Linked DNA regions of Homo sapiens. The protein of the gene in region 2 purifies or fractionates together with the protein of the main gene of each other region. This does not show direct contact. Each region holds a gene or a part of one and is shown on either strand. Other genes may lie near its edges.

Region 1 (3,500 bases), on a different chromosome or scaffold from region 2:
TTTGATTTTAAGAGAAGCTACAACTTTCGAGCTTTTTAATCTTAGCAATCAATCAAAATAAAACTAAAATTCTCTTGTGTGTCTGACTTAGCCAGCAGGTAGTGGGTTCTCAGGAATGAGTTGCTTCTGTGACATGAGCTATTGTAGAGGACATAGTTTTTACTTCAAGTATGTTCTGTAAGAATTTGTTAGAAGTATAATTTTTGCAAAGAGTTTAAGTAGAAAAAAACTACAGGAAACTGTCAATTTAATACTACATATGCTAAATAGTACTTGAATTTTTGTATCAGTTTTCCCCAGAATTCAAAACACTGCCTTACTCACAGGATTCCAAAAGAAAATACTTTCTACTAAATGATTTTCTCAAGCACATATTTAACATTAAGGTGCAAAACAGGACTAGGTTTAGACTCCTTTCAGATATAATTCCACCTATCCCTGAGAGTAGAACTTACCATCATTTTTATTGGCATTATATAAAACCTTTTTCCTCTTCTTTTTATTCTTCTTTGCACACCACAGTTTTCCTGTTGAGCAATCATAAACATAACTATAAATGTGTTCCCGTGAACAAAACCACATAACTCAAATTGAAGAACTCTATTTATTCATTCATTTATTCTTTAAATTTTTTTGCAGAAACGAGATCTCCATATGTTGGCCACGCTTGTCTTGAACTCCTGGCCTCAAGTGATCCTCCCGCCTCAGTCTCCCAAAGTGCTGGGATTACAGGTGCAAACCACCACACCCAGCTTGTTTTTAATTTACTTTTATAAATACTTATTACACTGTTTGTATAAAGACTATTTTTCAGGAAAGCATTTACAATTTTCAATTAACTACACAGTATAGACAGATAATCTTTAATACTTAAATCTTATCCTTTCTTTACAGTTCTGAGATAATCAGTTTTGCCTCTTGTATCACTCTTTCCCTGAGTACTTCTTCACGGTTCTAATATGCAGATTCACACATGGCTCCAGATGAAGACCCAAGAAACCATTTACTTATGTCAAATACAAGTGTCTAACCTGATTTTTCTGGCTCCTTATCTTCTTCTATGGTTTGTTTCATGGCTTCCCTTTGCTGCTGAAAGCTTTTCCCTTAATAGCAGAAAGAAAAAGAAGGGTAAAATATTTAAGATAAAAGGATAAGAATTTTTTTTTTAATCAAGAAGGGAAAACACTAGACATATCTCTTCACTTATATTCCCTTCCAAATCCTTTTGCCAACACAGGAGTAATGTCAGCTATGATGTGTAAGCCTCCAAATTTTTAAAATATTAACTCTGCTCAATCAATCCCATATGTATTATTAGAATACATATCATCTACTAAAATATTTAAAAATTTAATAGTTCAACTTTTTAAAAGGTTTCATTGAGCATTTACTTTGTGGAAAAGTACTATCCTGGATCTTACAATGGTTCTAGGTCCTTTAGAATTATCTCAAATTAAGGATATCAATTCTAGGAATTAACTTTTCCAAAACAACATGTGCGCATTCATCACATATTCAATTCCATATTCAATTCCAAGAAACCATTCAGTATATTCCCTTGCATGCATTATTCTCAATTCCTCTTCTTTTGTGTATGTATATGTGTTAGCCATTTTTTATTTCCACCCTTAAGTTACCAATTATATAAATGGAAAACGTGCTTTTCCTTACAAAATTAATATTTTAATATAGGAGGCTTTCAAGGTTCCTGACCTTGAAAGAGGTTTTCTTTTCCGACTTCTACTTTAAATCAAATATGTCTTTTCCTATAGGATACAAGTGGCTTCACTTAGAAGATTCTGAATTACGTTGAGGTTCCACTTTTTTATTTTATTTTTAAATCTACTTTTTTTCAGTGTAAAGCCAGAGATTCTTAAAAATCAATAAGCAAATTCTACATAGGTGGGGATAATCTGTAGAACTTAGTGCATTTCGTAAGTGTACTAACAAAAAGATTAATACTGACTTCCATACACATAAGAAGCATTAAAGGAAGCCTGGTTATCTTTTGAGACGAAGTCTCGCTCTGTCACCCAGGCTGGAGTGCAGTGGCGCAATCTTGGCTCACCGCAACCTCCGCCTTCCAGGTTCAAGGGATTCGCATGCCTCAGCCTCCCGAGCAGCTGGGATTACAGGGGCCCGCCACCATGCCCAGCTAATGGTTGTATTTTTAGTAGAGGCTCGGTTTCACCATGTTGGCCAGGCTGGTCTTAAACTCCTAATCTCAGGTGATCCTCCTGCTTGGCCTCCCAAAGTGCCAGGATTAGGGGCATGAGCCACTGTGCACGGCCAAGACTGTATTCTTAGTACAAGTAACTATTACTAGAAGGAAAATTTTAAGAGTATTAAAATTTAAAGGGGTCGGGTGCAGTGGCTTATGCCTGTAATCCCAACACTTTGAGAGGCCAAGGTGGGCAGATCACGAGGTCAGGAGATCAAGACCATCCTGGCTAACACGGTGAAACCCCATCTCTACTAAAAATACAAAACATCAGCTGGGCGTGGTGGTGGGCACCTGTAGTCCCAGCTGCTCAGCAGACTGAGAGAGAAGAAGGGCATGAGCCCGGGAGGCGGAGCTTGCAGTGAGCTGAGATCATGCCACTGCACTCCAGCCTGGGAGACAGAGCGAGATTTTGTCTCAAAAAAAAAAAAAAAAAAAAAAAAAATTAAAAATAAGTAACCGATTTTTAAAAATCAAGAACAAAGTAATTTTAATCATTTACATATTAAAAATGTAAAACATTACAATGATGTACTTCTGTGGCACTTTTTGTAGTATGAACTATAGGCTATTCTGAAATAGAGGCAGAAATTAATGAGAGATGGAAATGATTTTCTTTCTTTTTCTGAGACTGCTCTGTTACACTGGTGTGATCAAAGCTCACTGCAGCCTCAACCTTCCAGCCTCATGCAATCCTTCCACCTCAGCCTCCTGAATAGCTGGGACTACAGGTACGCACCACCATGCCCAGCTAATTTTTAAATTTTTTGTAGAGACAAAGTCTCATTATGTCAGCTATGCCACTATGTGGCCCAGGCTAGTCTCAAACTCCTGGGCTCAAGCAATCCTCCCACCTCAGCCTCCCAAAGTGCTGGGATTACAGGTGTGAGCCACCAGGGCCAGCCTCATAATGACCTCTTAAAAAAATCTGTCTAATTCTGATGGAAAGCCATCGTCAAACTCTAAGGCAGATCTTTAGTCTTATAAAAAGACTTAGAAATGTCATCATTGGAATCTATATACTTTCAGAAAATCAATCTATCAACAAACACTAGTTCTAAACATTTATGGGCTAAAGTTCGGCATGGTAGGAAGACACCATACTGATATTTGGCACAAGCCTGAGGCAGAACCACAATGGCTACCCAACACTCCAAGATTCTAGAGAAATGTCCTGTAACTGTTACTCTGAAGAATCACGGGTTTTAGCATCATACTCTAAAATAAATGTAAGAAGTCCATTCCTCCTTCCTTAAAATATGACTGATATAGACAAAAT
Region 2 (3,500 bases):
TCTCGTGCCTCAGCCTCCCGAGTAGCTGGGATTACAGGTGCATGCCACCTCACCCAGCTAATTTTTGTATTTTTAGTAGAGACAGGGATTCACCATGTTGGCCAGGCTGGTCTCGAACTCCTGACCTCAAGTTATCCGCCTGCCTCAGCCTCCCAAAGTGTTAGGATTACAGGTGTGAGCCACTGTGCCCCACCCAACAAGGTTTCTTAAGTGAGAGTTATAACCAGTCTGCCAGGGAAGTTACCCAGAACCTCTTTATTCTCCATGCTGCTGCTCTTAATGATCCACTAATACCTGTAGATGTATAATAATAATACTTACATACAAGTGATTAGAGGGCTTTTTATCTTTTTCTGAGGCTTGAGTTTAAGATCTACGTATTCCATGGGAGTCTACCATGCCTGGGAACATCCTATGTCAATTATTAAGAAAGAAATGAGGTTTAAAAACACTAGGATAGATAATAGGGAGAAGCAAGAGATTTGGTAACCCAGAGAAGAATAAAATAATAGTCAATACCAGCATCTATTGAGTGTTTACTCTCTGCTGCCCACTGAGCTAAGCATTCTATTTTGTGACCTCATTTTATCTTTTCAACAGCCATATGGGGTAAGTACTTCAGATGAGGGAACTGAAATTTAGAAAGGTTAAGTAACCGGCCGGGCGCAGTGGCTCACTCCTGTAATTTCAGCACTTTGGGAGGTCGAGGTGGGTGGATCACCTGAGGTCAGGAGTTCAAGACCAGCCTGGCCAACATGGTGAAACCACGTCTCTACTAAAAATGCAAAATATTAGCCAGGTGTGGTGGCACGCACCTGTAATCCCAGCTACTCAGGAGGCTGAGACAGGAGAATCGCTTGAACCCAGGAGGCGGAGGTTGCAGTGAGCTGAGATCGCGCCTCTGCACTCTAGCCTGGGCAACAAGGGCGAAACGCCATCTCAAAAAAAAAGGTTTAGTAACTTGCTCAAGATCACCAACAGGTGTTGCATCCAGGACTGGAGCCCACCTAGCTGGATTCTTGCATCTACACTCATACTAGCTGTAGCCTGGTCTGGCTCTGTCCTGGCTTATTAATCCATCTCAGGGCCCCAGAGTGCCCTGTTGACAGCTGGGCTTGAGAGTTACCATTTATTCTTAAAATGGGTGAACCTGATGTGGATCTCAGGGAGAGACTTTGCTAAGGAGCCTTAACCAGAGAAGCCAGTGAGATCCTCATGGCAGCTTAGGAGACTGTTTGGCATAAACTCCACCTTCTGGGAGCAGCTGGCTAACCAGAGCTTTGGGGATGGGAGAAGAGAGAGAGATGGAGGCAGAGGGACTCTTTGAAGGATGCAGTGTGTACAAGGAGTTCACAGTCCTTTCCAAGTCGCTTGGGTAAATGCTCCCAACAGCCAGGGAATGAGTAGCCAAGGCCGTTCCTCTCTGTCGCCATCCCTCCCCCTCCCGGGGAGAGGGCTTATCCAAACTGACCCAATTTTCCAATTCCCTGGGGTCCCAGATTGCTGTGAGAAGAACACTGCCCTTTTGAAGGGAAGAGAATCAGGTTGCCTTAGTTACCTGGAAGGTTGGCACGCCAAGTTCAGGTGCACGTAAGGAGAAACAGGGCTAGAATAAGTGTGAGTCGAAGGTGGCCACCGTCTTGCTGCACGGTTCCCTCAGTGGCAGAAGCCTTGATCAGGCTTCAGTGGCACTTGCAGGGAATGCCGACCTAATGTCAGGTGGCTGTCCATGACGTGTATCAGGAGCTCTCTCCAGCCACATGTGGTGCTAGGTGATGAGGCTCTGCAGCCTCCAGTTCAGCAAGGGGCCCTGGATAAGAGGAATCCACTTCACTTGGAGAAGTGGCCTGGTGACATCCCTATCACCAGCTCCTCGCTATTTGCTAAGGGAAGCACCTCCACTTGGACAGGGCTGAGGGCTAGATCTGGGCAAAAAACTCCCGTCTTGCCTCTCCCAGCATGGAGATGGCCAGCTGGCTGCACACCTTTAGGTAGAACAGCAAAGGTTCAGTTGCTGCTGCCTCGAATCCGTTTCAGAGTGAGATAAAGAAAGAGAAAACTAAGAAACTGGATACAGTGACATTTTGTTATTAGACCTTCCCCAGCAGGCCATTTAGCCTTTAGTTCCTGAGCAGAAAAATAATAATGGGGTGGCGGGAGGAGGGGGCAGGCGTTCACTGTTGTGTGCGGAGAATATTCTCTAAAGATGCAGGATGGGGAAGAGGGGGTGGAGCAGAGAGTGGGGAGGAGGGAAAGAAAAAGGACAAGTGTGGTGGGTCACATGCCCATTCTCCCCACCCCCCACCCCTTGCCAGTTGCCTGCTCAATGCTTCTACCCATGACATCTCACTGTTGGGAAGAAATGAGATCTTTCAGTTTCAAATGTCTGCCAAAGAAAAGGGACGGAGGCTTAAGTTCTCACTCAATGGTCAGCCAGAAAAAAAAAAAAAAATGAAGCTGCATCAAGATTAGGGACACCTTTGTTGGCTTTTTTTTTCTTCTCTTGCTCCATTCATCACTCTCTGGCAGCGAGGACACCAGGCCAACTGCAGCTGCTGACTTTCCCCAGTCGGCTGCCTGCTGTTGCCCAGGCCTGTTTTGGTAGCAACCCCCACACTGGCTTCCTCCCCGCCCAGTGGTGGTTACTTGTTGGATTCGTCCCTGGGGTAGCCCCTGGGATCCACTGACGGGTAACAGACTTGGAAGGATAAAATGTCAAGATGCAGGCATCAGGTGGCTGCTAGGATGAGATGACCCTGGGACAGCCTTCCAGTCCTACATCTGTCGTGGCTTTTCTTGGAGAGTCGGGCTGTGAGCATTTCACTGTATTCCAGGAATTTCTTCTAAGTGCATTGTTTGTCTTTGTATCACTAACAGTGAGAACAATAACTGGCACCTGGTGATAATGGTGATAAATAATCATGATTGTCTTTAAAGATCCTTATCCATTGTCTGTCACGTGCCAAACACTATTGCTCATCATATTTTTATGGCATTTTGCAAATGAGGAAACTGAGGCCGAGAGACAAGTCAAGTGACAAGCTCATTTTTCCACTATGGAAAAAAATGTGTATGTGTTTGTTGTTCCACCCAAACATGGGATTGCATACCACACGATTCACGATTCCCTGTAGTAGATAAGCTCTCCATAAAGATCATTAGAGGACACTGAGTCAAGTCTGGCTTTGTCACTTTAAAATAGTAAGTGGGACTGGGTGCAGTGGCTGACACCTGTAATTCCAGCACTTTGGGAGGCCAAGGTGGGTGGATCACCTGAGGTCAGAAGTTCAAGACCACCCTGGTCAACATGGTGAAACACCATCTCTACTAAATATACAAAAAAATTAGCCAGGCGTGGTAGCAGGCGCCTGTAATCCCAGCTACTCGGGAGGCTGAGGCAGGAGAGTCGCTTGAACCTGGGAGACGGAGGTTGCAGTGAGTCGAGATTGTGCTATTGCACTCCAGCCTGGGCAACAAGAGCAAAACTTCGTCTCAAAAAA
Region 3 (3,500 bases), on a different chromosome or scaffold from region 2:
GGTACATTGTTTAATGTGGCTCTCCCATTTTTGTACCTAATTACCAGGTACAAAATGCTAACACCTAAGTATAAATAATTCATACCTAATGACTATTAGCCATTAAGGGAAACAATTAGTATGTGGATGGATCACTTCCACCATCACCACTACCAGGAATAGTATCTGTCAGTGTGCACTGAAGACAAAAAGCTTGTTCATGCCCTAGCTCATGCCCAATTAACCTCATATGCTCCCATGTCCTGTGGACACTTGTTCTACAGTTGATATTTCTCAATCCAGGGAAGACAGATGGCTAAGTGCATGGGATCTGGATCCCAACAGAGGGAGTCTGGAGACCTCTTCTACTGCTCACGAGCTGTGTAACTTGGTGCAAGTTACTTAATCTGCATGAGCCCATTTTATTCTTGAGGTCACAAATAAATTGCAAAAATACTGGGGTCTTCTCATTTTTGGCGGAATAGGAATTACAGTCACTTCTCTACCTCCCAGTGAGATAAGCTGACCTTGTTAGCTTGTTACTTAAAGGATATCCATTTAATCTTTGCAATAAATTGCATAAAATTCATGGTGGAACTGGGACAAATCACCAGGAGCAATTAACTTTTAACTGGCATTCCAGATGCTAAAGCACATTCCTCAGACACACACTCCAGTTACCATTACTGTTCATGTATCCATCTTTACAAGAGATCTTAACTATAAGGGCTTTTTACAGCTACAAAATCATTCCAAACACTTTCTCATGGATACCCAATAACCTACATCTTCCCCAAGAGTCCTCAAACCTGTACAAACCCTGGATTCTGTCGCTCAGGCCCATCTATGCCTCTGGTGTACCCACATTCTTCCAATCACATACATCTGTCATTATAAATAATTGCTGAATATTGAAGAGGGCATGCGAACTATTTGGGCAAAGAAGAATTGACATGGTACTCATAAGTACAACTGGAAAGTTGCTGCCATACATAATATTTTTCCCCAGAGCTCAAAGCACTCATTCAATCAAAAGCCTGGGAGTTATTTATACATTTATTTGGTGAAGAGCTCCTATTTTCCATTCTATGGATCTTCAGTTTCCTCACAGGTAAAAGACTAAGTGCTCTTTTTTCTCTTTGAATGAGAGCTATTACAATTTCTACATGCCTACAGAGTTAAAATATAATGTCCTGAGATTTGTTGGGGCTTGTGTGTCTCTTTTCTGCTTTGTGGGCAGAAAAGAGGGGCTTAAGTTTCATGTTCTCCAATGCAGCTCTCAAATTTTAAGGGAAAAAAATCACTATATTAACCTTCATTTTTGTTCCCAGGATTTGCAGTCCAAGGCCTGGGAGGTATTCTCTTTTAAAGACTGAACGCCCAGTTCTGAAATGGGCTTTCTCTCCACAGCTCCCCTGGGCCTCATCAAGCAACCCAGGCCTCTCTCTCAAACAAACTCAGCCACTGGCCTCCCTCCTGCCTGGAGACTGAAAGGCCCCTGCATTCCCTGGACAACAGCACATGGCCTTCCAGGGACCTTGGGAAGGAGGAGACCATGAGGTCTCCAGAAGGAGGTCTCTGGGGTCAGATAAGCTGAGGATGAAGATAAGCAGAGACAAGGCAGCTGCCCCTCAATTCCCCAGGCTGGAAAAGGAAGCAGATCTCAGTGCACCGTGATGTTGGGAAAACCAAGGCAGCCCGTCACTGGCTGGTTTGCAAACCAGCAATGGCTTGGGCAGTCACAAAGGGAGAGAAAGCCCTTCAGTGAAGAACTCAATCTGGGCTCCAGCATCCACCCACCAGGGGAAAGCAGGACGGAATGAACACTGGGGTGAAGCTCCCCGTGAGAAAAAGAGATTAAGGAATGACGGGGTAAGGGAGAGTTGGAGGGGGCGGATGTCAGAGGAAGCCAAAATACACCCCAAGTTAAATAATAACAGTAAAAGTAATGACAGTAATAATAAAGGTGGCAGCCATGTGAGCAGCACACTCTCCAGGTCCTTCCAGCACACAGCAGCCTGAATCGCTCCCCACTGACACGTTAACCAGGAACAACAAGCCGCCTGCAGACAACAGAATCACATGATTCCATGCAAGCCCTGACCTGCCTCCTGCCACTTCCGTCCCCTCATCCTGCTCCTTCCTAAGGCTACCTGGGCCACTGGGGCTCTGCAGAAAAGGGGACATAGCATACATGCAGGACAAAGGCCAGTGACTAAAATCAGGATCCTCCCCAAAGCTGGGAAGTGGGGTAGGGTGGGGGGTACACTCCTCCCAGAGACAGTAGTAAGGACTCAAAGGGAAAGTAAAAGCCACTCTACCCAGCTGACACAGCACCTTCCACCCTGCCACCTCGATGACTGGGAGCCCTCACCCTCCCCAGCCACACACACATGCACACATGTGCATGCACACACACACTCCACACTCCTGGCACACACATGTGCAATCCTGCACACACACTCTCACCAGAGCAGGTGCCACCCAATAGCCTGGAACTTGATTGATCCTCACCACAGAAACTGCCTTTCCCAGGCTCTGCAATGGTGAATCGGTGAATCTGTGAATCCTGGAGCAGGCTGCAAATTCCTGATGGTTTCTCTTGCACAACCAGCTCTGCTCTGAACTACAGAGTTAGGTCACCCTTAGATTCCACTAAACAAGGATTTCAAGAAACCTCAGATCTGGGCATGATTTCAACAATTGAAAGGAGGTGGCTGCTTTATAAACAGAAATGATTTAATTTTTAAAAGCAGTTGATAAATGTATAAACCCAGGATGCAGAAAAGGTTCAGCACTTAGAAAGACAAAGATTCTGAAATTTTAAAATTATTCAGATAGCCTTTGCCTTGTTTCTCATCTGGGGTTCTGGGCATTCAAGGTATTTATTTTTTAAGGGGAGGAGGGCATAAGAAAGATGAAGTAATAAAAGGATTGTTTATAATTTTGTTCATTTTAACAGCAAATCTCCAGCAGTTCACTGCACCTCGAAAAGCAAGCAAATGTTTTCTTAACAGCAATTTGTTCAAAGAGTTTGCTTTGCATCCTGACTTGTAATTTGTGGATTAAGGGCTCAGAATGTAGTCTTCTAATTGGTTGCTGCTAGCAGCAGTTACTTGGAAAGGTACTCACAAACTGTATAGCTAGTTGGTTAAAGGAAATAAAGGAGGGAAAATGTGTCACCACCTTAAAGCAGTACACTTCTGGAAAGCAGTTCAACTACCTCCTTTTGCCAGTAATTTGTCAATAGGTGCCACTCCCTCATGTAGGGCCCTGCAACAATTTTACGGCCAGTATTTGCCTGATGCAGACCCAAATTTCATATGGAGCATCCTCCCACTAGGGCCATTTTAGGTTTGCTTATTCATCAAGCATTATCAAGCACTCTGCTCCTTTCCCATAGAGAAAAACCTGTTACAGCAAAACTGTGTATTAAAATGCTGCTCAACAAGGGTAGATCATCATGGGCTCTGTTGCTTTTGAGGACAGAAAGAAAGAGAAATCCACAGATAACTTAGGTG
Region 4 (4,054 bases), on a different chromosome or scaffold from region 2:
ATTCCTAATTTTTAATAATATCTACATTAATAAATATAACATTAAATATTTTTTGAGAGACAGGGTCTCACTTTGTTGCCCAAGCTGGAGTGCAGTGGCATGATCATAGTTCACTGCAGCCACAACCTCCTGGGCTCAAGCAGTCTTCCCACCTCAGCCTCCTGGGACTATAGGCACTTTGCCGGCATGCCTGGCTAATTTCTTATTTTTCTGTATGTAGAGATGGGGTCTCACTATATTGCCCAGGCTGAACTCAAACTCCTAGGGTCAAGTGATCCTCCCACCTCAGTCTCCCAAAGTGCTGTGTGAGCCACTATGTCCAGCTAAATGTAACATTATTAAATGTAAATACGACAGCATCAGTTCTACCAGAATGGTGCTTTAAGTACAGCAAAATTCCAAACTCTGAAATTTTCACTTTTTCTTGAACAAATTTTGATGCATCTTTGTTCTTATACAAATTTCTGACATACTACATATGAAAAATGATCCACTCTCAATGGGTATTATACATTTTATTTAAAGACTTCAAAGTAAAAAAAAAAAAAAAAGGTACAGAAATAGATTACATTATGATGACCACAGTAGTATTCTACATGACAAAAATAAAAACAGATTTAAGTAAATGTACCGGCACTGAACAAGCATTTACTTAACATCCAATCCAGGCTGCATATGCACAAAATGATCTGACCACATGCTTATGCAAAATAAAGTTTTTCTTAGAAAGCCAAAATTCCAACCATTCTGACTGTCCGCTGCCTATTCCCCTGTTGAGTATTTTGAGCGAACTTCTATAGAATATAAGAACAATTGGCATGGCACTTAAAGACTGCAAAAAACAGAACACAATTAAAAACATTTATAATGCATTTCTGTATAAAATACACACCGTAAATCTTATTAGTTAAAAAAAGATTTAAAAACAAAAGACCACCCTGAATAATGGTTAAAACCTCATCATAGAAAAATGCTCATCATTTTGTACACTGAAAGAAACTACTGAGAGGTTTTTTGGGGGGCTGGTGGGAAGGTAGATACCTAACTTAAAGATTCATTCAAAATTTGCTTTAAATTGTGGGTAATAACTCACTGCTTACCCCTTCTCAAAATGTTTTATCATGAATACTCTAATATTTAACCACAGGACAAACATAAAGAATAACCTGAAGAAGGTATTTCTCAAAGTGAGGTCGAAGGCCCCAAAAGAAGTCTAAGGTGGGCTCACTAGTGTGCATTTTAAACCAACTTCCTAGGTGATTATTTCACATTCCAAAATCTGAGAACTAATGCCCTATGGGAAACAGCACCACTTAAAAGCAAGGCCATAAACATATTTCTGACATGAGATACAGAATTCTAAGTTTATGATTTGAAGTGAATACTGCTTTTTGTTTTAAAACAAGTTTCAGGTGTTAAGAGAAACATATTAAATAAACATGTGGATGTATATAAACATTTTCCTTTGACGTTTTCATTGCTTTCAGACTTATGTTATTTGAAGGAAAGAGAGTATATAGCTAGAAACTTTGGAAAAATGACATTTCCAATGAAATGCAGCATCCACCCCTCCAAAAAAAGATAATTTATTAAATGCCTACAAATTTTAAAACATTTGAAATTTAAACTAGATAACTTTCCTAAAATTTTTACTAAGATTAAAAAATTTTAAGTAATTTAGATAATCATGTTTACTTTTTAAGTCCCTTTTCATTAAAAATATATTTAAAATAAACAACAGAAGGATGCTATATTTGGCACCCCTTTAAATAATAAGCTGCTGAACACTAATATCCATAAAAAATAATCCGAGGAACTCTGCCTCTGAAATGTATTCTACTATGTATTACATGTGTTATCTAGTTAATAAAAACTCACTGAAAGAGCTGATACTGTGATGTGTGTGAGTGTATGTGTGTGTCCTGAACATTTATTCATGCCTACTTTATTTTTCTGATTTCACTAAAGGGTCCAATCATATAGATAATGTGGTTTAGGGGAAGAAATGAGCATAATTAAGATACCCTACTTAAAAAATAAATACTTTTCCTGTATGCTAAATTATAAGGAAAAAATATTATACATTCTGCCTCCACTGAATACATGGAATGCTTTTACAAGTTTGGTAACAATAATGAGTGCCTCATTTGAATCAAGTCACAAAAAGCAACTGTGGGGATTCACTCTCCAATAGGAAATAAAAATATTACCAGTGTACTTTTCTGTATCTATTTTAAATTTCTGGTTTTTTTCCTTTCTATACACTGAGTAATTTTCCATTCAACTGCATCCTTGGTCTTTTGCAGTGTATATATTAACACTGCAGTTAAAGTTTCCAATAAAGGGAAAGGCTCAGGAGCTACCCTGTTAATATACTTAAAAAGAAAAACCACTTGTGCCAGTTTTGCAAAAATAGTTAATGATTTGGAATCTGATTCATAATAAAAAGTGTCTTTTTTAACTCAAGAAGAATTTCCCAATTTGGTTTTTGTTTGAGACCGAGTCTCACTCACTGTTGCCCAGGCTAATCTTGGCTCACTGCCAACTCCATCTCCTGGGTTCAAGCGATTCTCCTGTTTCAGCCTCCCGAGTAGCTGGGATTACAGGTATGTGCCACCATGCCCAGCTAATTTTTGTATTTTTAGTAGAGACAGGATTTCACCATGTTGACCAGGCCAATCTCAAACTCCTGACCTCAAGTGATCTGCCCGCCTCAACCTCCCAAAGTACTGGGATCACAGGCATTGAGTCACTGCACCCAGCCGAATTTCCCAATTCTAAGCAAGCAGCATCTTCTATTACCAATTTAATAACTGCTGCCTTAAAAAAGATCAATAATTTATTTATCCAAGGCAATAAAATTTACACCTGAATTTTTAAACATAAAGAACTCCAAAACTAATAGGTAATATAAAAAGTTGTTGCATTTTATATTAATCTTTTATTTCAAAATTAAACCCTGAAATGATTTAACACAGAATGACAAAAATTATGGGAGGTTTATGATGTAATCCCACTATGTGCCTTAATGCAACAGATACTTTTTTAATGCAGTGTTTTTTTTTTTTTTAAACAAAAAAGATAACTTCATTACTCATCTGTAGGCCTTTTAAAAACTGAAAAACCAGTTCAACTAAATTTTGACATGATTGTCTGGAAGCTAGTAGTATTAATTTTTTTTTCATAGTAAAACAGATGTAATAATTGATTCATATAGTCTACAAGAGAAGATATTGGGTGTTTTTTTGTAGGTGGCAAATATAAAATGGTTAATTGTATCCAGGCTTGCAGCAAGTTTATCCATGCATTAAATGGCAACATGAGTAGAATACATGGTTGAAAAATGAGGATCAGACACATTCTTCTGCAGACATCAAAAGAGGATTGATATACTCAAAACCTTCAAATTCAGACTGATCAATCTTCCTCACAATGTCACTGTTGAAAGAAAAATAAATTTATTTTCATCATAATCAAGATTTCTTCAACCTTTAAATGGTAAAATAAGATTAAAAATCAAGTAATTAGGCTAATTGTACTGAAAGGAAATCTATAAATTTTTAGATTAATCCCCCAGATTTTCTAGACGAATCAAGAATGGAGTACTGAAAATTTAAAAAACCCCGATAATCCCACAAGCAAGTTTAGAGCCAAAAAGGAGTTCAAAACTGAGGACTGCGAATAAAAAAGACACCAGTTGTCACCATTCCAGTTAATCTTAACTTTTGACCAGAACAACATTCCTAGTTACAGGTGAACATCCAGGTTTGAATTAGCATTCAATTTAGTAGTCACCTCAACAGCCAGATGTTAGATAGTGTAGCCCAGAAGAAGTTAGCCAAAAGGAAAAGGCAATAGGAACAAGTACACTGAGAGACCTGGAATGAGGAGAGAACACCGCAGGGAGATCATGGGTCACAGAGAGGGGAGAGGTTGGCATTTTGTTACACTGGGCTTCTACTTTAATATACAGTGAGTAGTGCTATCAAATATTTAATACATAAATGTATTATGCCATACTAAGAAGCACAAAGTTACAGAGGATACAGTCCCT

The links.
Region 1: the proteins of WWC1 (region 2) and PALS1 purify together in Homo sapiens (affinity purification with mass spectrometry; 2 studies listed by BioGRID and IntAct, with this or other methods). This does not show direct contact.
Region 3: the proteins of WWC1 (region 2) and AMOT purify together in Homo sapiens (affinity purification with mass spectrometry; 3 studies listed by BioGRID and IntAct, with this or other methods). This does not show direct contact.
Region 4: the proteins of WWC1 (region 2) and PRKCI purify together in Homo sapiens (affinity purification with mass spectrometry; 3 studies listed by BioGRID and IntAct, with this or other methods). This does not show direct contact.

Annotation. Positions count from the first base shown.
Region 1 is NC_000014.9:67,314,435-67,317,934, reverse strand, and holds part of PALS1 (protein PALS1), read right to left. Parts: intron 1,104-3,500; coding exon 1,032-1,103; intron 528-1,031; coding exon 456-527; intron 1-455. UniProt on the Homo sapiens protein: Plays a role in tight junction biogenesis and in the establishment of cell polarity in epithelial cells.
Region 2 is NC_000005.10:168,298,145-168,301,644, forward strand, and holds part of WWC1 (protein KIBRA), read left to right. Parts: intron 1-3,500. UniProt on the Homo sapiens protein: Regulator of the Hippo signaling pathway, also known as the Salvador-Warts-Hippo (SWH) pathway.
Region 3 is NC_000023.11:112,816,832-112,820,331, forward strand, and holds part of AMOT (angiomotin), read right to left. Parts: intron 2,608-3,500; exon of another isoform or gene 2,494-2,607; intron 1-2,493.
Region 4 is NC_000003.12:170,302,424-170,306,477, reverse strand, and holds the end of PRKCI (protein kinase C iota type), read right to left. Parts: intron 3,439-4,054; coding exon 3,351-3,438; 3' UTR 501-3,350; downstream 1-500.